Linked DNA regions of Homo sapiens. The protein of the gene in region 3 interacts with the protein of the main gene of each other region in a biochemical or structural test. Each region holds a gene or a part of one and is shown on either strand. Other genes may lie near its edges. The genes, in order: EPS15, PLIN3 and SPART.

Region 1 (10,427 bases), on a different chromosome or scaffold from region 3:
ACAGTAATTGCTTAATTAAGCCCCTGGAATGTGCTAGGCATTGTACAAGATTTTGGATAATCAAAGAAAGATGAAGCATGGACACTGTCCTTTAGAAGTTTGTAATTTAGAGGTTAGCTATGATTACAGTGTATTAAGTATGACAGTAGAGGTTAGGAACAAACAGTAGAGTTTGAGCATAGGTGAAGGAAGCCCAAGATGAGTCAGACGAGATTAAATTTGGCTGGATTCTGAAGAATCAATAGTGGGTTTCCAGGTACATATGGTGTGGAAGGACATTGAAGACAGAGGTTATGGCTTGTGGAAAGGCATAGGGTCATTGAAATATGTTGTCTATTGGAGAAGGAATAGGGTCTTCTGAGGCTGGGACACAGGTGAATATGAGAGGAAAAGAAGGTAGAACCCAGAACTGAAGGTTTTAATGTGTCTTGCAGCAAGTTTTACTTAATCCTCTAGATAAGAGGGAACAACACATATTTTAAAAATAACAGTGACTAGAGAAATATCCTTTGCAGTGAGTTATTTTTTAAGCAAGTTGGACATTTGGAATAGGAAGAAACAAAGGGAGAAAACCCAGTTGTATGTCAAGGAAGGAACGATGAAAGCTAAAATAATTTGGTAAACAGCTTAAAGAGAGATTTTAAGGTAGAATCTATAGGACATGTATGAATGGAGAAAATCAAAGATGAATCTGAAGTTACTAGACTGGGTGATACAGAAATTGAAGTCATTTTTCTCTTTTGGCATGGGTTTATTCAGAGCCAATGCCATGTGCATATCTAAAGTCGTATCTCTATATGGTATGGATTAGTTAACAGTGTAGGCAAGGTTAAAAATTTAGACATGAAAAAAATTAGGCATGCTGGTAAATTAATGATAAAGTACTAAAGGAGTTCACCAGTTTGAAACTGTGATCACACAAACTCACGGAATGTTAGCACTGGAAAGTCTTTCATGATCATCTATTGTGTTGGCATTTTTAAAGGAATTTTTAAAATAAATTATAGTAAATAATTGATAAACATTTTTGTCAAAGGAATCAGAAAGAGAACATCTAATTCTTTTTTATTATTATTATACTTTAAGTTCTGGGATACATGTGTGGAACGTACAGGTTTGTTACATAGGTATACATGTGCCATGGTGGTTGGCTGCACCCATCAACCCATCATCTAGGTTTTAAGCTCTGCATGTATTAGGTATTTGTCCTAATGCTCTGCCTCCCCTTGTCCCCCACCTCCCGACAGGCCCCGGTGTGTGATGTTCCCCTCCCTTGTGTCCATGCGTTCTCATTGTTCAGCTCCCACTTATGAGTGAGAACATGTGGTGTTTGGTTTTCTGTTCCTGTGGTAGTTTGCTGAGAATGATGGTTTCCAGCTTCATCCATGTCCCTGCAAAGGACATGAGCTCATTCTTTTTTATGGCTGCATAGTATTCCATGGGATGTATGTGCCACATTTTCTTTATCTAGTCTATCGTTGGTGGGCATTTGCATTGGTTCCAAGTCTTTGCTATTGTGAATAGTGCTGCAATAAACATACGTGTGCATGTGTCTTTATAGTGGAATGATTTATAATCCTTTGGGTATATACCCAGTAATGGGATTGCTGGGTCAAATGGTATTTCTGGTTCTAGATCCTTGAGGAATCGCCAGACTGTCTTCCACAATGGTTGAACTAATTTACACTCCCACTAACAGTGTAAAAGCGTTCCTGTTTCTCCACATCCTCTCCAGCTTCTGTTGTTTCCTGACGGGTTAATGAGAGAACATCTGATTCTTAAGAAACCTAGGCAAAGCAAAACTCTATATAATACAATAAAGAAAAATTCAATTTAGAAGGGGCATAAGCATATTTAACTAAGATTTAAAATGTACTTATTTCCTCATTTAAAATTTCTTCTCCTTCAATATTATAATTTCAAGTCTCTTAAAATAAGGACTGAATTAAAATACAGAAATTGTTTTTCTTCCAGAAATCAAGTGTCCCTGTATCTTAAATTCTCTGTACAGTTCCATTTATCAGTCCTTTGTGCAAGAGTTAGCAATTCATGGCACAAGGGTCACTTTTTGCCTTTCTTTGCAGAGTTGATGATACTCATCAAACATTGTCCGAATTCCTCAAGTATCATTGAGGAATTCAAAGGCTACTGCCTTTGAGTTTCCCTTTTTGTCTGCCTGCTCTGCCTGGGCTTTAAAGGAATTTTTTAAAGAAAGCAACATGATATTTTTAGACTAACCAGTTGGTTAAGAAAATATAAGATAAAAAGCAATTATTGAAAGCATTGTTCAGTGTTCTATTTAATCACAGAAACATCTGCATATATTTGAAAAATAGTGACACATGTGAGACATTTAGTCTGCAGATGGTATGTCACATGGTGGTTAAGAGCTCAGGCTGTGGAGTCAGAACCCACTTTGAATCCATAGCTTACTATTTTTAACTTTGGACACATTACCTACACATCAGTACTTCAGTTTTCTCATCTGTAAAATATGAAATGATATCAGTACCTAACTCGTAGATCTGTCATATAGACTATAAATAAGTTAGTATATTTAAAGAGCCTAGAGCACAACCTAGCACATTTTAAGTAGCATTTAAAGTGTTGGCTATTATCATAATGGTGCTATCTTGTGTAACCTATGCAGTAATTCAGAGACCTTTTACCTGTAAGTTTCTCTTCTGTTCTTAGATTCTTATTCTGGTGAATGACTGTTGGGACCTTTGAATAGATATTATTTTTAGAAATTTGTGTTCAGTTTTACCTCACCCGCTTTGAAATCTTTGCCTACCTCCTGCTGACAGATACTTCGGAGTTATTAATCCCTGAGCCACTGCGCCTGGCTTTTTAAAAATTTCTGTAGTTCTTGTTATTAAGCATGAGGTCTGGTATGTACATGGATGAATAAATAACATTTTCAAAATGGTTCTTTTTTTGTTTTAAGAAATCTTTTCCTACACTGAGATCTGCATTTCTTCTACACATTTTAAAGTTAGACTTTTACATTCAGGTCCATTATTTACCTGGAATTAATTTTTCTTTTTTTTTTTTTTGGAGACAGTGTCTCACTCTGTTGCCCAGTCTGGGCATGCTGTGGCATGATCACAGCTCACTGCAGCCTTGACCTCCTGGGCTCAAGAGATCCTCCCATCTCAGCCTCCCAAGTAACTGGGACCACAGGCACGTACTACCACGTCCAGCTAATTTTTTTTTTTTTGAGATGGAGTTTCACTCTTGTTGCCCAGGCTGGAGTGCAATGCATGATCTCGGCTCGCTGCAACCTCCACCTCCTGGGTTCAAGCAATTCTCCTGCTTTAGCCTCCCGAGTAGCTGGGATTACAGGCATGCGCCACCACGCCCAGCTAAATTTTTTTTTTTTTTTTTGCATTTTTGTTAGAGACAGGGTTTCTCCATGTGGGGTTTTTTTTTGACCAGAGAATCTGAGAGGGGAAAGATTGAGCTTAAAACAGATTTGTGGGGAAATTCCAGGAGTTCTATTTTCAACATGTTAGCAAAGCCCATCACATGTCCAAGGACAGATTTGAGTTAGCAAATTGAATATCTAAATATGGATTCTAGGAAAGATGTCTTCAAGTAAAGATTGTATTTAAAGCTGTTAAGTACCCTAGTCTCATCAACACAGTATACTCAGTAAGACTTTATTCTTTCTTAAGGTAGATTTAAAATTACTAACTTAACCCTCCCCTGCCCGCAAAGAAAATAAATATATTAATTTTCTTGGATTTTAGGATCTTCAAGATGAAGTTCAAAGGGAGAATACTAATCTGCAAAAACTACAGGCCCAGAAACAGCAGGTACAGGAACTCCTTGATGAACTGGATGAGCAGAAAGCCCAGCTGGAGGAGCAACTCAAGGAAGTCAGAAAGAAATGTGCTGAGGAGGCCCAACTGGTAATGTCTGGCTGTTTCCTGCTGCCTGCACCTATACATTAGTTGCTTTTCCTGGCTTAAGATGAAAACATTCTCTACTTTTTGTTATTGATGGTGGTGGTTGGCAATCCAGTCAGCATTTGGGTTCATGGGGGCGATGGAGCAAGGTTCATCCAGAAATTACAGGCCTTCTTTAGAGGAAATAGAAGGGCAGTTAATGAACTGTTTTTCCAAATTTTTGTTGGAAATATGGTGCCTATACCTTCAACTCTCCTCTGTCCCTCCCCCAGTTACCCTTCTTTACGAAAACCATACATCAAAAAACATCATAATTGGCTGGGCACAGTGGCTCACACCTGTAATCCCAACACTTTGGGAGTCTGAGGCGGGGGGAATTGCTGGAGCCCAGGAGTTGGAGACCAGCCTGGGAAACATGGAGAAATCCCATCTCTACAAAAAATATGAAAGCTGGTTGGGTGCAGTGGCTCACGCCTTTAATCCCAGCACTTTGGGAGGCCGAGGCAGGCGGATCACGAAGTCAGGAGATCGAGACCACGGTGAAACCCCGTCTCTACTAAAAATACAAAAAATTAGCCAGGGCGGTGGCGGGTGCCTGTAGTCCCAGCTACTCGGCAGGCTGAGCCAGGAGAATGGTGTGAACCCAGGAGGCGGAGCTTGCAGTGAGCTGAGATCACGCCACTGCACTCCAGCCTGGGCAACAGAGCGAGACTCTGTCTCAAAAAAAAAAAAAAAAAAAATTGAAAGCCAGGCGTGGTGGCCCACATCTGTAATCCCACCTACTCGAGAGGCTGAGGTGAGAGGATCACCTGAGCCTGGGAAAGTTGAGCCTGAAGTCTGAAGTGAGCTGTGATCGTGCCATTGCACTCCAGCCTGGGTGACAGAGTGAGACTGTCTCAAAAAAATAAAACATCAACAACAACAACAACATCAAAAACTCCATAATAGGGCTAGGTATGGCTGGGCATGTTCCTATAGTCCCAGCTACTCAGGAGGATCACTTGAGCCCAGGAGTTTGAATCCAGCCTGGGCAACATAGCAAGACTCTCTCTCTCAAAAATTAAATTAAATAAATTATTTGCTATTGCTGTCAAAAAAAACACCAAAATAGTAAACTAAACAAATAAATGTATTGCATTTTGGAACATTTTAATGACATCTCTTCTTTTAATCCCCATTTCTTCTCATTCACTTTCACATTATAGATCTCTTCTCTGAAAGCTGAATTAACTAGTCAGGAATCGCAGATCTCCACTTACGAAGAAGAATTGGCAAAAGCTAGAGAAGAGCTGAGCCGTCTACAGCAAGAAACAGCAGAATTGGAGGAGAGTGTAGAGTCAGGGAAGGCTCAGTTGGAACCTCTTCAGCAGCACCTACAAGATTCACAACAGGAAATTAGTTCAGTAAGTCTTTGTAAAGCAAGAAATATATTCAAATGGATCCTCTGTGTCCTTTAGTCAGTTATACTTTCCAACTTCTGCTCCTTCAACCTCTTGCCTAGTTTACTGTTCATTTTTCAGTCATTTTATACAATAGGTTTTTTTGTCACCTGTTATATATTGAAACTATCATACATCTTGTATATCTATCTGATGATTATCATTGGAGTAGTGATTAAGAGTGTGGGCTTTGTGGCTAGATGGTCTAGGTTTAAGTACTGGTGTGCCACTTACTAGCTAAATCACCTTAGTATCAGATTCTTCATCTTCAAAATTGGAGGATTAATAAATACCCTACCCCTTAGGGCCACTGTGAGGATTAATGAGGCAAAACCTGTAAGACATTTTAGCATGGTGCTTGGTACATAAATGCTCCATAAGTGTTGCCTGTTTTATAAACAATAACCTAGTTTCTTCTGTTTTGTGATTCTAATTTTGAATTCACATTTGCTAATTTGGAAACTTTTTTCTTAAGGAAATTGTTCCTTCTGTAGATAAATTTGCAGTGTTATAGTTGGTCTTATGTATAGATCCTTTGCTTTATTTCCAGGTTTCCCTACATGAAGACTAATGTTTTAATGAATGATAAGATAGTTAGGGCTCGGCATGGTGGTGGCCCATGCCTGTAATCCCAGCACTTTGGGAGGCTGAGGCAATGGATCACTTGAGGCCGGGAGTTCGAGACCAGCCCTGCCAACATGGCCAAACTCTGTTTCTACTAAAAGGTACAAAAATTAACTGGGCATGGTGGTACCTGCCTGTAATTCCAGCTACTTGGGAGGCTGAGGCACGAGAATCACTTGAGCCTGGGAGGCAGAGGTTGCAGTGAGCTCAGATCACACCACTGCACTCCACCCTGGGCAACAGAGTGAGAATCTGTCTCAAAAAATAAAAACTAAAAAAAAAAGGATAGAAACACAGAGATCATGGAGTTGATTTCTTTCATTATGAATTTGAACAAACTAAAGCCAAGGAAGTTCAAGTAACTTTCTCAAGGTTACATATCCTTGAAAAGAGCTACATCTAAAATCCAGTTCTTCTAAAACCCAGTCCAGTGTGCTCAGTTATTACATATAATGAAGTCCTTCACTTTTGCGCTTCCTTACCCCCTGTTATCTGGCAGCTGAGTACCTACCTACTCATTCGTCATGCAAGATATACCTTAAATTCTTATTTCTTTATGGTATTTTCTGCATCCTGCTTTTGTTGGACTTTGTATTTATGTTACAGCAATAATAAGATTTTTCCCTGCATATTTGCTTATATGTCTGTCTCCCCTAGCAGAGTCATGGTTTTGGTCTGGGAACTTACACATTTTTAAAAATCCGTATCATTTAGCACAGTTCTTGTCCCAGTGTAGGTACTCAATAAACAGGTAACCTGAAAGAGTTGTTGTAGTGAGAATGCTACCAGATGAATGGGTATTCTTTAAAGTATTTTCTTTTTTTGAATCTCTTTAAAAAAAAAATCCATGTATACTAAAATTTCAAGAGAGAAATACTTATTGTCAGAAATTACTGAATCTTTTCTCTAAGTCACGTAGCATTCCCAGAGGATTCTTCTTAAAGGAAGCAAATGTATCCTAGACCAAGTCTACAGGTATAGCCATTTTTATTTTATTTATTTTTTTGAGACAGGGTCTCATTCTGTCACTCGAGTGCAGTGGTGTGATCATGGCTCACTGCAGCCTTGACCTCTGGGCTCAAGTGATCCTCCCATCTCAGCCTTCTGAGTAGCTGGGACTACAGGTGCACTCCATCATGCCCAGCTAATTTTTATATTTCTTGTAGAAATGAGGTTTCACCGTGTTGCTCAGGCTGGTCTTGAACTCCTGGGCTGAAGCAGTCCTCCTGCCTCAGTTTCCCAAAGTGTTGAGATTATAGGCATGAGCTACCACACCTAGCCCGTCAGGAAGTGGAGGAGGGCGTTTTTATGTTACATGTCTTTCTAGTAATAAATTCTGTTCTATATTTCTTCTTTGTGTTGGCAGATGCAAATGAAACTGATGGAAATGAAAGATTTGGAAAATCATAATAGTCAGTTAAATTGGTGCAGTAGCCCACACAGCATTCTTGTAAACGGAGCTACAGATTATTGCAGCCTCAGCACCAGCAGCAGTGAAACAGCCAACCTTAATGAACATGTTGAAGGCCAGAGCAACCTAGAGTCTGAGCCCATACACCAGGAATCTCCAGTGAGTCTAATACTTTCATAACCTTCATAATCAACCTCCTTGTGCAGATCCAAGTTTCACTGACATTATATCTAATATAAATACATGGCCTTGCCTCATCTGAGGACAATTGAGATTTCCTTTTTAGAAGCAGAGAGTCCTAATCCAAACAATTGTACGTTTTAACTAGTATAAAAAGATAACTTTAGCTAATTTTTTTTTTTTTGGAGATGGAGTTTTGCTCTTGTTGCCCAGGCTGGAGTGCAGTGGTGCGATCTTGGCTTACTGCAACCTCCGTCTCCTGGGTTCAAGCAATTCTCCTGCCTCAGCCTCCTGAGTAGCTGGGATTACAGTCACGTGCCACCACACTCAGCTAATTTTTTGTATTTTTAGTAGAGATGGGGTTTCATCATGTTGGCCAGGCTGGTTTCGAACTCCTGACCTCAAGTGACCCATCTGCCTCGGCCTCCCAAAGTGCAGGGATTACAGGCGTGAGCCACCACGCCCAGCCAGCTAATTTATTTTTTGTAGAGCCTGTTTTTAAAATGGTGGTTCTATAGAGTAAAACTTTTTTTTTAAGTACCCTCACCAAAAGCTAAAATTATTTTTATTACGTAGTGTTAAGGACATTCATTTACCAATTATTTGACGAGTACCAACTATGTGCAAGAGTGCTGTATTACATAATATAAGAGCTACAGAGACAAGAGACCTCAGTCTTTCCTTCAAGCAGCCTACAGTGTAGTAGTGTAACACTGTGTTAAAGGGCTGTGCTAAAGGAAGCGCAGAATTTTCAGTTAGGACAGTTTGGAGGGGGTTCATAAAGATTTTGTTGGGGAAAGCTTTGCGAGTTTAGACAAGTGAGAAGTGGTTAAGCAAAGAAGAGGAGGATACATTCCTGCCAGAGAAAACAGTATTAGTATAGGTACAAGGTGGAAGAATACATGCAGCACAGAATCTTGAGAAGTTCTGAAGGATATCTTGTGATGGTGGAGAGGGTATTGGTAAGAGATGAGGCGCTTCTAGTAGGCATCTGCATTACCTCTGGTGATTGTCAAAGTATAAATGTGTATCCCTTTCCCCAAACTTGCTGAACTAGTTTCTGGGATAGAGCCAGATATGTATATTTTAAAAACACACTCTATGGGTGATTGTCATGTGCACCTGGATAAAAATGACCAATTTTAGGTCAGAAAGTGCCAGAAGATGAGAAATTTAGATTCATCTTAAAGCATTGGGGGATTTATCCTACTGCAATGAACAGCCATTGAAGAATTTTAAGCAAGAAGTGACGTGATTAACTTTTAGAAATGTGGAAAACGGATTAGAGAGTGAGACTGTACCCGTAGAAGGGATAATGAGAAGAATAGAAGTTTGAGAGGTATTAAAAGTGAAAAGTTAACAGACTCGATTTTATTTACACAGTGCAGTCATGTATGCATTATAAAATATTCTTTCAAGCGCAAAAGGCAGATTACTAGGTTATCCTGCAAATAGATAAGGGTGGTATAAAGTAGCTATTGCCCTGCTACTTTTTTTTTTTTTTTTGAGACGGAGTCTCGCTCTGTTGCCCAGGCTGGAGTGCAGTGGCGCAATCTCAGCTCACTGCAACCTCTGCCTCCTGGGTTCAAGCTATTCTCCTGCCTCAGCCTCCCGGGTTTAAGCTATTCTCCTGCCTCAGCCTCCCGAGTAGCTGGGACTACAGGCGTGTGCCACCACACCTGGCTAATTTTTTGCATTTTTAGTAGAGACGGGGTTTCACCGTGTTAGCCAGGAAGGTCTCGATCTCCTGACCTTGTGATCTGCCTGCCTCGGCCTCCCAAAGTGCTGGGATTACAGGTGTGAGCCACTGCATCCGGCCTGCCCCTACTACTTCTTAAGTCTTTCACCCACTCGTCTAAATGAAGAAGACAATGGGAAGCCATTGAAGGACTTTTAACCAGAAGGGTCACGATCACATCCACATTTTAGAGCTATTAGTTTGGCTACAATAAGGAGAAGAGATTGGAAATACATGTATTGGAGGCAGGAAAGCAGTTGGAAGGAAGACTGCTATAGTAATTGGAACCAAAGATGATAGTACTATAAGTGATTGATAGTGACAGTGAGGATGGAGAAGAAGGCAAGGATTTGAAAAAGAGGTAAGAGGTAGACTGAGCAAGACTTGGAGTCATATTCTGAGGATTAAAGATGACCTGAAGGTTTCTGACATGAGTGACTTTGATGCTTGATGACACCATTTCCCTAAAAAAGATTATAGAAGGAGAAGTTATTTGATGAATACATTCTGCTTGTCTTTTTTTATTTTTAAATAGTTTTTGGTTATCTTTAGTCAGTTTTCTCTGCCATGTCAAAAAGTATATTGTTAATCTACTTGCATTAATATTTTGTAGGCAAGAAGTAGTCCTGAACTACTGCCTTCTGGTGTGACTGATGAAAATGAGGTGACTACAGCTGTTACTGAAAAAGTTTGTTCTGAACTCGACAATAATAGACATTCAAAAGAGGTAAAAAATGATTTTATATTTACATTGGGGACTTGTAAGGGTGGAAGGACAGGAGGAGGTGAATTATCAGACATTACTTAATGGGTACAATATACATTATTCAGATGATAGATACATCAAAAGCCCCGACTTCACCTTTAGGCAATATAGCCATGTAACAAAATTCCACTTGTGCCCCTTGAATTTATACATATAAAATAAATAAATGTTCTTAATAGCTGGATGTGGTGGCAAGTGCCTGTAGTCCCAGCTACTCAGGAGGTGAAGTAGGTGGATTGCTTGAGCCTGAGTTGGAGGCACTAGGCAACATAGAGGGACCTAATCTCTAAAAATTAAATGATATTTTAAAAAAATGTCCTTATCACTGTTTTCCTCAGATGAATTATACACTATTTTA
Region 2 (9,254 bases), on a different chromosome or scaffold from region 3:
AAGCCAGCCACGTGTCCAGGCTCCCTTGCAAGCGCAGGAGAAATTGACACAATGGGAAGAGCTACAGGGGATGTGCAGCCCTTCTTTGCACCAACCACACAGAGCCTGAGTATGTCAATGATTAAACCAAAGGCCCCAGAGCTCACCGTAGCCAGGAAACCCTTCCTCCCTCCCTCCCTTTCTCTTTTCTAGACTGTCATGTAAGTCAGATGCTGGAAGGATTCCTTGGGTTCCTTCTGGAATCCCGTCTCTCCCAGGGGAGCCTCCTTCCCTCACTTCTCTCTCCCCTGCCCCAGATGGAAACTGTCAAGCAAGGCGTTGATCAGAAGCTGGTGGAAGGCCAGGAGAAGCTGCACCAGATGTGGCTCAGCTGGAACCAGAAGCAGCTCCAGGGCCCCGAGAAGGAGCCGCCCAAGCCAGAGGTACCCATGAGGGGACTGGGGGGTGGCCTAGGGTACTTGGAGTCCCGATGCCACTCTCTACACCTCTGCTTCATGGGCCTACCTGCTTCGAATGATTTCCCTAGCCTCACCTGCTTTTGGAAGCTAATGACACCTCCTTCAGGAAGCCTGCCTTGATTTCTCCTCTTGGGCATGCATAGGTATGGCTTCTGTTTTTTGTTTTGAGATGGAGTGTTGCTCTGTCACCCAGGCTGGAGTACAATGGCATGATCTTGGCTCACTGCAACCTCCACCTCCTGGGTTCGAGTGATTCTCCTGCCTCAGCCTCCCTAGTAGCTGGGATTACAGGCGCTCACCACCACGCCTGGCTAATTTTTTTGTATTTTTAGTAGAGACAGGGTTTCACCATGTTGGCCAGGCTGGTCTTGAACTCCTGACCTCAAGTGATCCGCCCTGCCCAGCCTCCCAAAGTGTTGGGATTACAAGCGTGAGCTACTGAGCCCGGCCCCTAGCAGCAACTTCTGACTAGTATTCTCCGGCCCCCTCCACTCTATCTCAAGCCTTGGCCTCTTGTGTTCTCTAATGGGTCTCGCTGCCTGTCCCACCACCCACTTAAGCTCCCCAGGGGCAAAGGAAGTTTGCAGTGAGCCGAGATCGCACCACTGCACTCCAGCCTGGGCAACAGAAGGAGATTCTGTCTCAAAAAACAGAAAATGTCCTGAAATTAGATGAAGGTAGTATTTGCCCAACCTTGTGAATGTATTAAAAACCAATGAATCGTACACTTCAAAGGGCGAGTTTTAGGGTGTGTGGATTATATATCAATTTTTGAAATAGTTGTTTATTTATCTTTGAGACAGGGTCTCACTCTGTTGCCCTGGCTGGAGTGCAGTGATGCCATCACAGGTCACTGTGGCCTCGCCATTGCAGGCTCAGGCAATCCTCTCGCCTCAGCCTCCCAAGTAGCTGGGAACACAGGCGTGTGCCACGATGCCTGGCTAATTTTTTTTTTAATTTTTAGTAGAGACAGGATCTCACTGTGTTGCCCAGGCTGGTCTTGAGCTCCTGGTGTCAAGCAATACTCCCACTTCAGCCTTCCAAAGCACTGGGATTACAGGCATGAGCCACCACACCCGACCCCAGATCAATTATTTATTTATTTATTTATTTATTTATTTTTTGAGATGGAGTCTCGCTCTGTCACCCAGGCTGGAGTGCAGTGGTGTAATCTCAGCTCACTACCAGCTCTGCCTCCCAGGTTCACGCCATTCTCCTGCCTCAGCCTCCCGAGTATCTGGGACTACAGGCGCCCGCCACCAGGCCCAGCTAATTTTTTTTGTATTTTTAGTAGAGACGCGATTTCACCGTGTTACCCGGGATGGTCTTGATCTGCTGACCTTGTGATCCGCCCGCCTCGGCCTCCCAAAGTGCTGGGATTACAGGCGTGAGCCACCGCACCCTGCCTATTTATTTATTTATTGCTCTGTTGCCCAGGCTGGAGTGCAGTGGCACAATCTCAGCTCACTGCAACCTCTGCCTCCTGGGTTCAAGTGGTTCTCCTGTCTCCACCTCCCCAGTAGATGGGATTACAGGCATGCGTCACCACGCCCGGCTAATTTTTGTACTTTTTAGTAGACACGGGGTTTCGCCATGTTGGCCAGGCTGGTCTCAAACTCCTGACCGCAGGTGATCCGCCCACATCGGCCTCCCAAAGTGCTGGTATTACAGGCGTGAGCCACCGTGCCCGGACCCAGATCGATTTTTTAAAAACTGAAATGAGATCATATCAAAAGCACATAGTAAGGGCTACAAAAGTGACATGCATAAAGATATGGTGAATATCTCTATAAATGCAAATTGTTCGGGAGGCAGAACTAGACCACCTGCTGCCTAAAACTGTCTCCTGTTTCCCCGACTGCTAAGCACAGCAGCCAGAATGACTTTTCAAATGAAAAAACCAGATCTTATCTCTCTCACGTGGGCACTCTCCCGTAATCCCTCGCTCAAGTCCAGAGTCCTCCAGCTGCCAGGGCTCTGGGCAAAACCCTACCTCCCAGTGTGTGCCTTTTTTTTTTTTTTTTTTTTTTTTGAGATAGAGTCTCACTCTGTCACCCTGGCTGGAGTGCAATGTCATGATCTCGGCTCACTGCAACCTCTGCCTCCCGGGTTCAAGCGATTCTCCTGCCTCAGCCTCCCGAGTAGCTGAGACTACAGGCACCTGCCACCACGCCCAGCTAATTTGATTTATTTATTTATTTTTGAGACAGAGTCTCACTCCGTCACCCAAGCTGGAGTGCAGTGGCGTGATCTTGACTCACTGCAGCCTCCACCTCCTGGGTTCAAGCAATTTTCCTGCCTCAGTCTCCCAAGTAGCTGGGATTACAGGCGCCTGCAACCACACCCAGCTAATTTTTTTGTATTTTTAGTAGAGACAGGGTTCTGTCATGTTTGCCAGGCTGGTCTAGAACTCCTAACCTCAAGTTATCCACCCGTCTTGGCCCCCCAAAGTGCTGGGATTACAGGCCTGACCCACTGCGCCCGGCCTAATTTTTGTATTTTTAGTAGAGATGGGGTCTCACCATGTTGGCCAGGCTGGTCTCGAACCCTGTCTGTGCTCATCTCACTCTCTGGCCAAGGAAATTTTCAAGGACCTGATTTCAACTATGTTCTCCCCGGATGGTTTACAACTTCTGCCTAGAAAGTTCTTCCAGGCTGTCCCAGCCTGGCTTCCACTTTTTGTTTTTTAACAGCTTTTTTTTTTCTTTTTTTTTTTTTTTTTTTTTTGAGATGGAGTCTCGCTCTGTCGCCCAGGCTGGAGTGCAGTGACGCGATTTCGGCTCACTGCAAGCTCCGCCTCCCGGATTCACGCCATTCTCCTGCCTCAGCCTCCTAAGTAACTAGGACTACAGGCTCCCGCCACCATGCCCAGCTAATTTTTTTGTGTTTTTTTAGTAGAGATGGGGTTTCACCATGTTAGCCAGGATGGTCCCGATCGTCCTGACCTCATGATCCACCCTCCTCGGCCTCCCAAAGTGCTGGGGATTACAGGGGTGAGCCACCGCACCCAGCCTTTTTTTTTTTTTTAACAGTTTTATTGAGATCTCATTTGCATACCATACAAGTCACGCATTTAAAGCATACACATCGCTGGTTCTCAGCATTGTGCAACTATCCCTATCTCATCTCATGCCCCTAAAAAGAAACCCTTTTCCCATCAGCAGTCACTGCCCCATTTCCTCCTCCTCCCAACCACGTATCCCCTCCTGTCTCTGGATGGGCCTGTCCTGGACATTTCATAGAAATGGGATCACACCCTGTTTGGCCTTTTGTGTCCGGCTTCTCGCGCTGAGCGTGACGTCCTTAGGGCTCACCCATGCTGTGGCCTGGGTCAGAGCCCCATGACGTTCCATGGCTGAGTCACATTCTGTTGTATGGGTGGATCACATTCTGTTCACCCATTTATCAACCGAAGGACACTTGAGTCGTTTCTACTTTTTGCTGTGCCCCTGTGTGCATGTCTTTGTGTGTGGACGTATGTTTCCGTTTCTCTTGTGCACACACCCACAACTAGAATTGCCGAGTCATATGATGATTCTATGGTTTAACATTTTGAGTAACCGCTAGACTGTTTTCCAAAGTAACTATACCACCAGCAATACACGAGGCTTCCAATTTCTCCGCCTCTTGACTGACAGTGGGTATCATCTGATAGCCTCTGGGGTTTTTGTTTGTTTGTTTGTTTTTGAGACAGAGTCTCGCTCTGTTGCCCAGGCTGGAGTGCAATGGCATGATCTTGGCTCACTGCAACCTCCGCCTCCTGGGTGCAAGCAGTTCTTCTGCCTCAGCTTCCTGTGTAGCTGGGATTATAGGCACATGCCACCACACCCGGCTAATTTTGTATCTTTAGTAGAAATGCGGGTTTCGCCATGTTGGTCAGGCTGAACTCCTGACCTCGGTGATCCACGCACCTTGGCCTCCCAAAGTGCTGGGATTACAGGCATGAGCCACCATGCCAGGCCTCCTTATGGTTTTGATTTGCATTTCCTCAATGACTTATAAGGTCAAACAGCTTTTCATGTGCTCTCCCTATATCTTCTTTGGTGATTTGTCTATGCCCTTTAAAGAATTTGACTAGTGGCCAAATGCAGTGGCTCGTGCCTGTAATTCCAGCATTTTGGGAGGCTGAAGTGGGCAGGTCACTTGGGCCCAGGAGTTTAAGACCTGGGCAACTTAGTGAGATCCTGGCTCTACAGAAAATTTTAAAAATGTAGCTGGGCGTGGTAGTGAGTGCCTGTAGTCAGGCAGGCTGAAATGAGAGGATAACTTGAGCTCAGGAGTTACAGGCTGTAGTAAGCTATGATCACGCCACTGCACTCCAGCCTGGGCGACAAAGTGAGATCCTGTTTCTAATTAAAAGAAAAGAGTCTGGGCGCGGTGGTTCATGCCTGTAATCTCAGTACTTTGGGAGGCCAAGGAGGGCCGATCACTTGAGGTAGAGTTCAAGACCAGCCTGGCCAACATGGTGAAACCCCATCTGTACTAAAAATGCAAAAGTTAGACGGGCGTGGTGGCACGCGCCTGTAGTCCTAGCTATTCGGGAGGCTGAGGTAGGAGAATCGCTTGAACCTGGGAGGCGGAGGTTGCAGTGAGCCAAAATCATGCCACTGCACGCCAACCTGGGCAACAGAGCAAGACTCTATCTCAAAAAAAAAAAAAAAAAAAAGGGCCGGGCACGGTGGCTCACGCTTGTAATCCCAGCATTTTGGGAGGCCAAGGCAGGCGGATCACGAGGTCAGGAGATCAAGACCATCCTGGCTAACACGGTGAAACCCCGTCTCTACTAAAAATACAAAAAATTAGCCTGGCGTGGTGGTGGGCGCCTGTAGTCCCAGCTACTCGGGAGGCTGAGGCAGGAGAATGGCGCGAACCTGAGAGGCGGAGCTTGCAGTGAGTTGAGATTGTGCCACTGCACTCCAGCCTGGGCGACAGGGCGAGACTCCGTCTCAAAAAAAAAAAAAAAAGTTTCGCCTATGGAAAGCGTTTGCCCCAAGGTCAGTGGTAGAACCCCTCTTCCCCTCTTTCCCTGGCTTCAGCTCCGATCGCCTTTCCTGAAACAAATGGTCCTGATTGGTGTCCCCATCTCCCTTCTCAGCAGGTCGAGTCCCGGGCGCTCACCATGTTCCGGGACATTGCCCAGCAACTGCAGGCCACCTGTACCTCCCTGGGGTCCAGCATTCAGGGCCTCCCCACCAATGTGAAGGACCAGGTGCAGCAGGCCCGCCGCCAGGTGGAGGACCTCCAGGCCACGTTTTCCAGCATCCACTCCTTCCAGGACCTGTCCAGCAGCATTCTGGCCCAGAGCCGTGAGCGTGTCGCCAGCGCCCGCGAGGCCCTGGACCACATGGTGGAATATGTGGCCCAGAACACACCTGTCACGTGGCTCGTGGGACCCTTTGCCCCTGGAATCACTGAGAAAGCCCCGGAGGAGAAGAAGTAGGGGGAGAGGAGAGGACTCAGCGGGCCCCGTCTCTATAATGCAGCTGTGCTCTGGAGTCCTCAACCCGGGGCTCATTTCAAACTTATTTTCTAGCCACTCCTCCCAGCTCTTCTGTGCTGTCCACTTGGGAAGCTAAGGCTCTCAAAACGGGCATCACCCAGTTGACCCATCTCTCAGCCTCTCTGAGCTTGGAAGAAGCCTGTTCTGAGCCTCACCCTATCAGTCAGTAGAGAGAGATGTCCAGAAAAAATATCTTTCAGGAAAGTTCTCCCCTGCAGAATTTTTTTTCCTTGTTAAATATCAGGAATATAGGCCGGGTGCGGTGGCTCACACCTGTAATCCCAGCACTTTGGGAGGCTGAGGCGGGCGGAACACCTGAGGTCAGGTGTTCGAGACCAGCCAGGCCAACATGGTGAAACCCCGTCTCTACTAAAAATACAAAAAAAAATGAGCCGGGCATGGTAGCAGGTGTCTGTTATCCCAGTTAGGAGGCTGAGGCAAGAGAATCTCTTGAACCTGAGAGGCGGAGGTTGCAGTGAGCCAAGATCGCGCCATTGCACTCCAGCCTGGGGGACAAGAGTGAGACTTAGTCTCAAAAAAAAAAAAAAAGAAAAAAAAATCAGGGATATAGTTCATATCCCACTTCTTTGTTTACACCGATGTCCCTGAATATCAGCCTGTAGCTAATGGACTTGGGATTTCTGGTCTAAGTGGGCCTCCTGGGGATGGGGTGGTACACTGAGCTTCTGAGCCTCATTGTAGAGTAGAAAGGTACTGGGGCCTGTGTGGTAAGCCTTGTTGAAATGCTCTGGTATTCAGTATTGCCTTAATAAACTTCACCCACAACTGCATACAGGCCATGTGTGTACGTGTGTGTGTCTTCATCTGTCCCTGCTGCTAGAACAGAAATATCTTAGGCAGGGTAATTTATTTATTCATTTATTTATTTTGTAGAGACGGGGTCTTGCTATGTTGCCCAGGCTGATCTTGAACTCCTGAGCTCAAGCGTTCCTCTCACCACGTCCTCCCAAAGTGCCTGGCCAGGCTGGGTAATTTATGAGCAACAGAAATTGATTTCTCACAGTTCCGGAGGCGGGGAAGTCCAAGATCAAGACACTGGCAGGCCTGGCACAGTGGCTCACGCCTGTAATCCCAGCACTTTGGGAGGCCGAGGTGGGAGGATCACTTGAGGCCAGGAGTTTGAGACTGGCCTGGGCAACATAGCAAGACCCCATCTCTACACAAATTTTTTTTTTTTAAGTTAGCCAGGCATGGTAAGGTGGGAGGGTCACTTGAGCCCAGGAGTTTGAGACTGCAGTGAGCCAAGATCGCACTACTGCACTCCAGCCTGGGCAACAGAGCAAGATACCATCTCGGAAAAAAATCCAAGTGACAATCTACAGTGTTTCTCTACGGTAGCTACAGAGAAGGGGAACTTCAGGGACTTCTCCCAGGGACATGGAGAAGATACATTCTCAGTCTTACTAAATACTGCTGGACTGTTGCCCAAATCATTGTCAGTCTTTTCACTCCCACCCTAAGTCCTGAGAGGGTTCATTTCCCCCATCACCAACCACATGTTACTTTCTCTTTGTTAATCCATATTCAAGTTGAATTCATATGCACCCAAGTATATGAATCTTAAAGGGACAGTTCAATGAATGTTACATAGGAATCCACTCCCTATAACCAACAGCCACAGGGATTACTGGTGCGTGCCCCACCATGCCCGGCTAATTTTTGAATTTTACTAGAGACGGGGTTTTGCCATATTGGCCAGGCTGGCTTTGAACTCCTGACCTCAAGTGATCTGCCCGCCTCGGCCTCCCAAAGTGCTGGATTACAGGCGTGAGCCACTATGCCAGCCTTTTTTTTTTTTTTTTTCGCTCTTTTTTGAGACAGAGTTGTACTCTGTTGCCCAGGCTGGGGTGCAGTGGTACTATCTCAGCTCACCGCAACCTCCACCTCCCAGGTTCGAGTGGTTTTCCCGCCTCAGCCTCCCGAGTAGCTGGGATTACAGGCGTGCACCACCACGCCCGGCTAAGGCTGGAGTACAGTGGCACGATCTCGGCTCACCGCAAGCTCCACCTCCTGGGTTCACGCCATTCTCCTGCCTCAGCCTCCCGAGTAGCCGGGACTACAGGTGCCTGCCACTACAACCGGCTAATTTTTTGTATTTTTAGTAGAGACAGGGTTTCACCGTGTTAGCCAGGATGTAATTTTGTATTTTTAGTAGAGATGGGGTTTCACCATGTTAGCCAGGCTGGTCTCAAACTCCTGACCTCAAGTGATCTGCCCACCTCGGCCTCCCAAAGTACTGAGGTTACAGGTGTGAGCCACCACATCTGGCCCCACCTCATCCTCTTGAGTATCTGGGAACTACAGGCGTGCACCACCACACTCAGCTAAATTATACACACACACACACACACACACACACACACACACAGATGTGGGTCTTGCTATGTTGCCTAGGCTGGTCTCAAACTCCTGGGCTCAAGCGACCTCCCACTCAACCTCCCAAAGCACTGGGATTACAGGTGAGAGTCACTGCACCTGGCTCTCACCCGATCTTTTTCCCAATCCCATCAGATAGATGCTATTATCTCCAGGGAAAATGAGGTGTAATCCAGAGAGCCCACCCTCAGCCCCACCTCAGCTACTAATAGCTGAGTAGTAATTTGAACTCAGGCCAGGCATGGTGCCTCACGCCTGTAATCTCAGCACTTTGGGAGGCCAAGGTGGGCAGGTCACTTGAGGTCAGGAGTTCGAGACCAGGCTGGCCAACATGGTGAAATCCCCCTCTCTATTAAAAATACAAAAATTAGCTGGGTGTGGTGGCACACACCTGTAATCCCAGCTACTGGGGAGTCTGAGGCACAAGAATCACTTAGCCCAGGATGCAAAGGTTGCAGTGAACCAAGATCACGCCACTGCACTCCAGCCTGGGCAACAGAGCGAGACTCTGTCTCAAAAAAAAAAAAAAAATTGGACTCAAAGAGTCAAGTTCTCTCCACGGTGCTTATAACCACCACATTTTAAGGTAGCAATGCCTGTTTTGGAATATCATACATGACACATATGTTGACTTGTGAAAGTGTCAAAGATATATTGACAATGGAATACAGTAAATTTTTTTTTTTTTGAGACGGAGTCTCGCTCTGTAGCCCAGGCTGGAGTGCAGTGGCGCGATCTCAGCTCACTGCAAGCCGCACCACCTCACAGGTTCACACCATTCTCCTGCCTCAGCCTCCTGAGTAACTGGGACTTCAGGCACCTGCCACCATGCCCGGCTAATTTTTTGTACTTTTAGTAGAGACGGGGTTTCACCGCTTTAGCCAGGATGGTTTCGATCT
Region 3 (10,427 bases):
CTTTACAATACATTCTTTCATGCTTCCTAGGGATTGAGCTGCGCGGCGGATCCCTCCGACTTAATTCTGGGCCTGAGAAAAGTTTCTCTTGGAATGCGCAGTTTCGTGACGCAGCATTATTGCGTGACTCTAGGGCTGACCCAGTTTTTCACTTTCTAATTGTAAGGAAGTGCGCTAGTAGTCCACCGAGGATCCTCGAGGTTGGCCTTATTGTATCATAATTTAACGAATTTGCGTTCCAGGTTGTTACAGCCTTTGAAATAATGGCCTCATATTTAAGAATGTAGCAATTTTTCTTTGAAATTTCCGAAAGTGGGGAAAAAAGTAATAGAAGACTGCACCTATATGGAATTATTTTCTGATTCGCAGTTCTTTATAATCGTAGACTTAATTTGGTGGCTTTATTGGACCTGTTTGAAACAGGAAGCCTTTCTGTAATGTGGTTTCGGGTCGGCTTCACCTCTGGCACTCTCTGAAACGTCGTTGTCTATGGTTTCCCTAAGAAGCTAGAATGAGCGGGATGCTACGGAGGGAGGTGTATACAGGTGTTAGACAAAGCCCCCTCCGCTTTTTTGGTAAAGGGCCAAATAGGCATTAGATCAACTTGTGCTAGCTCTAAGGAGTTAAATGCGGTATTATTAAAGACTGCTTGTAATGTTGACTGTTAAGTGAGAGTGTTACTTCTTTCAGTGTTTATGGAATCGAACTAAATTGCTAGGTATTTTAATGCAGAATTTTACCTTTTCTCGGGTATTTTTTAAGACATACACAGACATACATGTAGTTATGTTGAAATAAATGTGTTTTATTAGAACGTTAAAAAATTAGAATTTAGGTGAACTACTGGTATCGGAACAGATTTTGGTTTGTTGTTGAAGACTGTACACTGGTGTAGGTACTGTTTAATACATCAGATTGTCATTTCAAAGACTTTGTCTTCTTAACTTTGAAAATTAAATAATGTGAAATAATGTGATAATGGTTTTTATCTTTTCAGGACACTTGATTGACACTTAATTGTGCTTAGGAATAGAATAGGCTTTTTTTTAAGTCACCATCCTCCAATCCTTATTTCTGTAAAATGTATTTTCTGAGACCGCTGAGGATATAGCAAATCCCAGTCACAAAATAAAAATGTGATATTTTAATATAAACCTTTTTCTTTCTGTGTTGAGATTCCCCAGAGATTAGACTGAAATTGACCATTAGACTTATATATAACCTCTAGATACCCAGGCTCTTCTCTCGTGTATCCTTTTTTTCTCTTTAAGATGGAGATGTAGCAAGGAAGGTTATTAAGCAATCCTGTGGAATTAGCCCTCCCACTCCACCCCTACACACAGGCACACTCTTCTTTCTCAGTAGCCATCTTGTTCCCTCCATTGACACATTATTAGGAAATCTTTCATCACACCGTATGTAAAATAAGCTTAGAAATAAACGTATACCCAAGGTAAATATTGCTTCTAGCTATATTCCTTCATTATGCCTCGCTTCTACTTTCAAATGCTACCTATTGAAGATTTAAGCCACATGACTTTCTACGACGGGACACTCTGGGTTTTCTTCACCCCTCCCTCACTCTGCTGACTTGTAAACATAGTAGGACTTTTAGATTTGGAATCAAACACATCTCATCTAATTTTCATTTTCATTTTTCTTTTCTTTCTTTCTTTTTTTTTTTTTTTTAAAGAGACAAGGTCTTGCTCTGTCACCCAGGCTGGTTGGAGTGCAGTGGTGCAGTCATAGCTCACTGCAACCTTGAACTTCTGGGCCCAAGCGATCCTCCGGCCTCAGCCTGTGCAGTAGCTGGGATTACAGGCGAGAGCTCATTTAATTTTCTTGACAGATAATCTTCTGATCCATGAACTGATTTGAATGTATCATTTACTAGCTCTCTTCTTGGGCAAGCTGCTCAATATTTGTAAAACATTTTTAAAATCAGATATCAACCTCCAAGAGTGAGGATTGGATAACCTTAGAAGGGTGCCAGACACATATAGAGAGCTTAACAAAAGATAGTAAATTTTGGTGCTTCTGAGGGCCAGAGACAGACCATGTCCATTATATCTTTGCTATATATTATAGTTGTGAGTGATTTTTAAAGCAGTACTTTTAATTTGCTTGTGAACCCCCAAATAATTTTTGTAAAACTGTCCCTCTTGCACACTTTTGGTTAACTTACAGCATTTTACATCATGCGTTAGTTGAAAAGAATGCAGTTTCCCACATGGTATTGATATTAACATTTTAATATTGGTACATCATTCTTTCACCTGTATTCAGTGGGGTATCATATCTTTGTAGTTTTATATCCATCACCATCAATTTTTAAAATACATTATATTTTACACACTTCCTTTTTTAAAAAATTTTACTTTTTTATCACCCCCACCCCACAGAATATTATCTTAAGGTAATGCATTTTTATGCTTGAAAGCTTTTTATTAATCTCTGTGATACATGGCTTTAATAACAATAGTTATATAAATTGAAGCTAAGTTTAAAAATTTCCTATAACTAATTCTGTAAGTTGTAATTTTTCTTTTGGGTTGAGTTATTATAAATAGTTGATTAGAATAGCTTAAAAACTTGATGGATTTTAATGAATAATAATTATTAAGAGTAGAAGTTTACTGGAAATCTGTGTCCTAATGGAATGGATAGTGGGAGTTGTGCCTAAATTAAAGGAGGGTCTTTGAGCCCTTCGACTTATTGTTTGTTGGTAGGGAGGCTTTTCCATCCTGGGGCAGTGTACCATAGTAAGAATAGGAGTGGGTGAGAAGTATGCCTTTATTTTGTAAAGTGGAAGATTGTGAAAGGATCTTGGGGAATAAAAATCAGCATGATAACTGGACAATGGGCATATTCTCAGGCAGATCAGTTTAGTGAGAAGTACTCATGGGAGTAAAGGATCTGGAAGCCTTTTTCTTAAAATTACACATGTCGTTGGTGTATGTCCCATGGAAGACTTCATTTGTCCTGGGGGGCACACATCCCCCAGTTTGAAGACCATTTAGAGTGGTAATTCTCAGTGGGGGACGATTTTGCTGCCCAAAGTACATTTGGCAATGTCTGGAGACGTTTTTGGTTGTCACAACCGGGATGAGGGGTGGTGCTGCTATGGGCATCCAGTGGACAGAGATCAGGGATGCTGCTAACAAAGCATTATCCAACCCAAAATGTCAACCATGCCAAGACTGAGAAACCCTGATTTAGAGGATTTGTTTTGGAATCAGACTATTTAATTCTGTAAACTAGTGCAGGGTCAGTAAACTTTTTTTGTTAAGTGCCAGATAGTAAATATTTTAGGCTTTTGGGGCCATGTATGATCTCTGTTGCACATTCTTCTTTGTTTTTATAACCTTTAAAAAATGTAAAAGTAATTCTTAATTCCAGGGTCTTTCAGAAAACAGGTGATCTAAGGCAATTAATGCTTGCAAACTTCAATTTTCTTCTCTGCAAAGTAGTACTAATAGTAATATTGCATCAAGAATTGTTTGTAAGGATTGAGATAAACACCTAGCATACTGTCCAGCATATGTTAAGTACTCTAAATGATGCGTGGGGATAGTGGTGTCCTATCGTATGTAGCACAAAAGTGGGTGCCAAGTCACAGTGTTGTTCAAGACCCTGTTCAAGTCATTTGGACAAATTTAATGATGCTGGTGAAGCTCCCAATCAACTCACAGATGCCTATTTAACCTCTGCTGTCTTTCTGCTGCCTTAGTCTGGGCCTCCTTGTATCCTGAGGAAGATAAAATACAAAATGCCTGTCTTGTGGTTTCTTTGGAAAGATGTGGCAATCTTATGACACAACAGGATAGTATTCCAGGAGAAGAGATTGTTAATATTGATAGGGGTTGTGGGGTAGAGCAAATACGTGGGTCTGTATATGGTCAATTGTATATGGTATTTTCTAAATTGGGTACTGAATATATTCTGTTGACTACCATGAAGTTGTTGCATAATAAGGCTGACTAGTGGCACTTCAGGTTAGAAAGTATAGTTATATTATTAATCGGAAGCTAGACCAATTTTAATGAATGCTTTCTGTGATGCTTCTGTGCTTTCATAGTGTAGATTGCTGCTAAAATAGTTTCATATCAGTGAAATTCTTCTATCGTAAGTTTTCATGAGATCACAGGAAAAGAATTGCCACATCTAATGACAGTAGCCACTAGGTACATGTGGATATTGAGCACTTGCAATGGGGTTAGTTGGAATTGAACTATCTTTTCAGTGTAAAACACATACTGAGTTTTGAAGACTTCATACCAAAAAAAAGAAAGCTAAAATATTTAACTGAAAGTTTTTATATTAACTGCATATTGAAATAATATTTTTGATATATTTGGATAAATAAGATACTATCATTGAAATTAACTTCACCTGTTTTTTACCTTTTTAATGTTATTAGAAAAGTATAAATTACATATGTGGCTTGCATTACAGTTCTGTTTGACATAGTTGCTCTAAAGCTTCCATTTACTTTTTTAATAGTAATTAAATTTTCTATCATACACATAGATTTAAGAAAAATCTTACCCCTTCCTCCCAAAGTCAGCTTGTATCATTTTTCTTACCCAATTCTTTTGGTCTTTTTTGTACTCTAAACAGTGCGAATATATTGGCACTTTTTCAGTTTTAGGCACTGTCCATTAACTTCTCAGTGAGAAAGATGAAGTTTTATCTCTTTCATCCTTTGTCGCATGCACATAAACTTTTTATCCATCCATCTTCCCATCTTTCAATATGGTTGTACCATAATTTTGTTTATATTGAGATTCATTGTGTATATTATGACACCAATCAAAACTGAAACATTTAGTACATTATGATTACTTTTTATTTCTTGCTCAACATCATTTTCCCTAGAGTTAATCCTTAGTTTTTAATTATTACTAATGGAACCCTGAATACTCTCACAGTTGTGTAGATCTTTTTTCAGAGCTTACAATCACATTAGGTATTCTATCAGTTTTACTTTCTTAAAAAATTCTTTTCTGTTGTCTCCTACTCCACCCTGGAGTGTTTGCCTAATTGTTATCTTGGAAACTCATCATCAGTCTTGGGATTCCTTTCATCAAACATGGTACCCAGCAAACAGAAGATGTAATAACTGAGCAATCACTTGGCTGGGTTTAGAAGCTATTTTTACTCAGAATTATGAATTAAATGTATAATTTCCTTCTTCTATTGTTGCCTTTAAGAAGTTCCTTAGCACTCTTACTTCTCTCTCTTTTTTTGTGTGTAAGTATTTTAAAGATGATCCTTTTGAGCTTAGTGTTCTAAAATGTCATGGTATGTTTCTTGGTGTGAAATCTTTTTTTCTTATTTATTTATTTATTTTTATTTTTTTGAAACAGAGTCTTGCTCTGTCGCCCAGGCTGGAGTGCAGTGGTGTGATCTCGGCTCACTGCAAGGTCCGCCTCCCGGGTTCAAGCAATTCTCCTGTCTCAGCCTCCTGAGTAGCTGGGACTACAGGCGCCTGCCACCACGCCTGGCTAATATTTTTGTATTTTTAGTAGAGACAGGGTTTCACCTTGTTAGCCAGGGTGGTCTCGATCTCCTGACCTTGTGATCTGCCCACCTCAGCCTCCCCTTTTTTTCTTATTTTTTGCCCATTGGTTTTTTTATTTACTTTTATTTGTTAGAGATGGGGTCTTGCTCTTTCAACCCAGGCTGGAGTACAGTGGTGTGATCATAGCTCACTGCAGCCTTGAATTCCTGCACTCAAGTGATTCTCCTGCCTCACTTCCTGAGTAGCTGGAACTACAGGCACGCGCCAGCATGTCTGGCTAATTTTTTGATGTTTTCTTTGTAGAGCTGGTCTCACTATGTTGCCCAGGCTGATCTCAAACTCCTGGACTCAAGCGATCCTCCTGTCTCAGTCTCCTAAAGTGCTGGGATTACAGGTGTCAGCCACTGTGCCCAACCTGTTGGTCTTTTTAAATTAGGAAATTCATGTTTTCCAATTCTAGGAAATTCTATGAATTATTTCTTTAATTCTTTCATCCCTTATTTTTTCTCTGTTCTCTATTTCTAGGAGGTTTTTTGTTTGTTGGTTGGTTTTTTTTTTTTTTTTTTTTTTTTTGATGGAGTCGTGCTCTGTGAACAGGCTGGAGTGCAGTGGCATGATCTCGGCTCAGTGCAACCTCTGCCTTCCGGGTTCAAGCAATTCTCCTGTCTCAGCTTCCTGAGTAGCTGGGGTACAGGTGCATGCCATGATGCCCTGGAAATTTTTTTGTATTTTTAGACGGGGTTTCACCATATTGGTCAGGCTGGTCTCGAGCTCCTGACCTCAGGTGATCTGCCCGCCTCAGCCTCACATATTTCTAGAAGTTTTATTATTCAAATGATATGCCTTATAGACTGGGTCCTAATTTTCTTATTTATTATTGCCTATTTTTCATCTCTGTCTTTTTGCTCTGCTTTCTGGGCATTTTCTATAATTGTATGACCTCATCCTTCTTGAGTTTTTCCTTCCTGCGTTTTAAATATTTAATTTCCCGGAGTTCCTTTTGTCACTCGAATATCCTTCTTTCAGTATGCACGCATCCCACTTTTTATTTTATGGATGCGATATTTTCTTTTTCTTTATGTTGATATAAATGATAGGGTTTTTTTTTTTACGTTTCCTGCACATTGTCCATTTCAACCAAATTACATTGCTCTTCTTTTAATCCTTTATACTGGATGTTTGCCTCATGTTTTGTGATCCTGGGCTGTGTGTGTGTCTGTGTGTGAGTGTGTGCGTGTGAGTGAAGCACTAGAAAGCTGATCTGAGATTCTATGGGTGGAACCTATCAACTATGGCTTCTGAACGGTGAATTGCTTGGACAGTTTTCCTTAGGGAACTCTCACTGTCACTATTCTTTGTGTCTTTCTTCTTGGTGATGATCAGATTCCTCAAGAAGATAACTTCCAATCTCCTTTCTTGAGGGGTACCTGGCAGCCAAAACTCTAATTACCAAGTTGTGGGGAAGAAGGCTGTGGGTCTCAATAATCAATGTGTAACATTTCACTTAATCCCCCTGCTTTTGGTTTTTACCCTTAATCATGCCTGATAGTTTCTTATCCTCACTTTATTTTACACTCTTCTAGATCAAAGCACTCAGTCTTTCAGGGCTGTAGAGAAACAGCGTCCTGATTGCTTGGTGTAGGAAAGATCTGAGGGTGCTAATTTGTAAATAGGCTTTCAACCAGTCCTCTTTTTTCAGCTCTTTGTCTACTTCCTTTCCATAGGAAGATTGAATTCCATCAATTCTTATGCCTTTGGAGGTTCTTGATGTGACGTAAGTGCAGCTGCGTCTCTGATTTTCCCACTGACAGTTTAAAGCATCTGTTTTCTCAAGTGTGTTTTGGGAGTTTTCACTTGTCTGCCTCCTTTTTTGACACCAAGTACTGTTGACTTTTCATCTTCCCTATTTGTCCTTGTGAGTTATGGCTTTATTATTTATCTGTTTTATTGAGGAATCACATAAAATGCATATAGTACCCTGATCTTAAATGTATAGTTTAATGATTTTTATGTATATATACAGTAGTCCCCCCTAACCCCTTATCCAAGGGAGATAAGTTGCAAGACCCCTAGTGGATGCCTGAAACCATGGATAGTGTGGCACCCAATTGCTTTCAATTGGAACATGTTTCTGTTCATATCTCAGCCTTTTCCATCTTAACTAAACACTTGTCACATGCTTTGACCATAAGTTTTGCAGTTTGAGGGACAACAGCAAAACTGGCACTAATTTCTTTTTCCTTCTTCACAATTTCAGGAATAGAAAATATGTTATTAATGGTAGATCTTAGCAACCTCAGCATATGATTTTTTTTCTTGTTAAGTTGAAAACTTTAACCTTTTCACTTGAAGGAAGCACTTCACAGCTTTTCAGTGTATCAAAATTGCCAGCATCACTACTGTTGCACTTTGGGGCCATTATTAAGTAAAAAGAATTAGTTGAATCCAACCACCACAATATCGGAACAGTTGATCTGATAACCAAGATGGCTACTGTATTAGTCCGTTTTCACACTGCTGTAAAGAACTGCCCAAGACTGGGTACTTTATAAAGAAAAGAGGTTTAATTGACTCAGTTCTGCGTGGCTGGGGAGGCCTCAGGAAACTTACAGTCATGGCGGAAGATGAAGGGGAAGCAAAGACCTTCTTCACATGATGGCAGGAAAGAGAGAGCTAGCAAAAGCTGGAAAAACTGCCTTATAAAACCATCAGATGTTGTGAGAACTCACTATCAGGAGAACAGCATGGGGCAAACTGCCCCCATGATCCAGTCATCTCCCACGGGGTCCCTCTCTTGACACCTGGGGATTATGGGTATTACAGTTCAAGGTGAGATCTGGGTGGGGACATCGCCAAACCATATCAGCTACTAAGTGATCATGGGAGGGGAGCATAGACAGCATGGATGCCCTGGACAAAAGGATGATTCATGCCCCAGGGGGCACAGAGAGAGACAAGAGGAGATTTAATCATGATACTGAGAATGTGCAATTTAAAATTTATGAATTATTTATCTCTGTAATTTTCCATTTAATATTAATATTTTCAGATCATAGTTGACTGCAGGTAACTGAAACCACAGAAAATGAAACTATACATAAGTGGGGACCACTGTACACCCTTGTAGTCATCACTCAGATCAACAAGAGAACATTTCCAAAGGCCATGAGATTCCCTCCTGTACCTGTGAAGTCTGTAGCCTCTACCTATAAGCACTATTTTGATTTATGTCATATCATAGACCAGTTTTTCCCATTTAATTCATTCATGTAGAATCATAGTATGTGGTCTCAATATGAAGTCTTTTGTATTTGGCTTTTCCTCAAAGAATTGGTGAGATTCATTGATGTTGCAGGCAATCAGGTTTAAAATTTTTTTTCTGTGTATTATTGCATTGTATGAATGAGTGAGCATTTGGGTTGTTTTAAGGATTTGCTTTTTGTGAATATAGTTGCTGTGAATATTGCCATACATGTTTTTGGCATGCACATGCATCCATTTCTCTTGGTTATATACCTGCAAGTGGAATTGTTGGGTCATTGAGTGGGTGTTTAGCTTTAGTAGAAACTGCCGGTTTTCCAAAATGTTGTATCATTTTTCAGCTTTCACCAGCAAGGTAGAAGAGTTCCACTTGTCTTCACTTAGCACTAATCAGTCTTTTAAATTTTAGCCATCTGTTAAGTGCCTAGTTGGTATCACTCGATTTTAGTTTCACTTTTCTGAGGGAATAGTATGTTGAACACCTTTTCAGATGCTTTTTAAAGATTTTCTTCTGTGAAGTGCCTATTCATGTATTTTTCTCACTAAGAAAAATGGTTGTTCCTTTTTCATAATCTTTCCAGAGTCATCTTAGTGGGATTTGGGGAAGCAACAGGGCTGTGTGGGGTAACCTGCCACCTTTAAGTGGAAATCAGGTAACAAAGTTTCATTCACTTTTTTTTTCTCATTTCTGTTTTCCCCAGTCTATGATTCAATTCATTTTTTATTGGCTGGATATAATCTGGATTTATATTATAATGAATTTTAGAATGAGACTCTTGTTTCAACCATAAGGATGTATGATAGGAAACTATTATAAGAAACCAGAACAAGAAAATTATTTAATAGATGTATTCTGATTTATTCTCTTATGTTTTTAAATTAAGATATTTTGGACCAAGAGTTTTCATTTATTTATCCATTCATCAAATACATGTTAAGTGCTTTCTTTATGACAGACCTAATAGTAGGCTTAAAGGATAGTATAATAGTGAACAAAACAGAGATAAGCGAGGCACTTGTCCTCTTAAAATATATTCAGGTAGGAGATACGAATCATAAGTAAACAATAGCTAAGCAAGATAATTAAATATGTCTCCAATTTTGCAGAAATGGAGCAAGAGCCACAAAATGGAGAACCTGCTGAAATTAAGATCATCAGAGAAGCATATAAGAAGGCCTTTTTATTTGTTAACAAAGGTCTGAATACAGATGAATTAGGTCAGAAGGAAGAAGCAAAGAACTACTATAAGCAAGGAATAGGACACCTGCTCAGAGGGATCAGCATTTCATCAAAAGAGTCTGAACACACAGGTCCTGGGTGGGAATCTGCTAGACAGATGCAACAGAAAATGAAAGAAACTCTACAGAATGTACGCACCAGGCTGGAAATTCTAGAGAAGGGTCTTGCCACTTCTCTGCAGAATGATCTTCAGGAGGTGCCCAAGTTATATCCAGAATTTCCACCTAAAGACATGTGTGAAAAATTACCAGAGCCTCAGTCTTTTAGTTCAGCTCCTCAGCATGCTGAAGTAAATGGAAACACCTCAACTCCAAGTGCAGGGGCAGTTGCTGCACCTGCTTCTCTGTCTTTACCATCACAAAGTTGTCCAGCAGAAGCTCCTCCTGCTTATACTCCTCAAGC

What was found.
Region 1: the proteins of SPART (region 3) and EPS15 form a complex in vitro, tested with the Homo sapiens proteins (one study listed by BioGRID).
Region 2: the proteins of SPART (region 3) and PLIN3 form a complex in vitro, tested with the Homo sapiens proteins (one study listed by BioGRID).

The regions. Positions count from the first base shown.
Region 1 is NC_000001.11:51,403,022-51,413,448, reverse strand, and holds part of EPS15 (epidermal growth factor receptor substrate 15), read left to right. Parts: intron 1-3,752; coding exon 3,753-3,914; intron 3,915-5,116; coding exon 5,117-5,314; intron 5,315-7,340; coding exon 7,341-7,544; intron 7,545-9,916; coding exon 9,917-10,030; intron 10,031-10,427. UniProt on the Homo sapiens protein: Involved in cell growth regulation. May be involved in the regulation of mitogenic signals and control of cell proliferation. Involved in the internalization of ligand-inducible receptors of the receptor tyrosine kinase (RTK) type, in particular EGFR.
Region 2 is NC_000019.10:4,835,836-4,845,089, reverse strand, and holds the end of PLIN3 (perilipin-3), read left to right. Parts: intron 1-296; coding exon 297-422; intron 423-5,553; coding exon 5,554-5,898; 3' UTR 5,899-6,749; downstream 6,750-9,254. UniProt on the Homo sapiens protein: Structural component of lipid droplets, which is required for the formation and maintenance of lipid storage droplets. Required for the transport of mannose 6-phosphate receptors (MPR) from endosomes to the trans-Golgi network.
Region 3 is NC_000013.11:36,335,298-36,345,724, reverse strand, and holds part of SPART (spartin), read left to right. Parts: intron 1-150; exon of another isoform or gene 151-545; intron 546-9,366; exon of another isoform or gene 9,367-9,438; intron 9,439-9,892; 5' UTR 9,893-9,894; coding exon 9,895-10,427. UniProt on the Homo sapiens protein: Lipophagy receptor that plays an important role in lipid droplet (LD) turnover in motor neurons.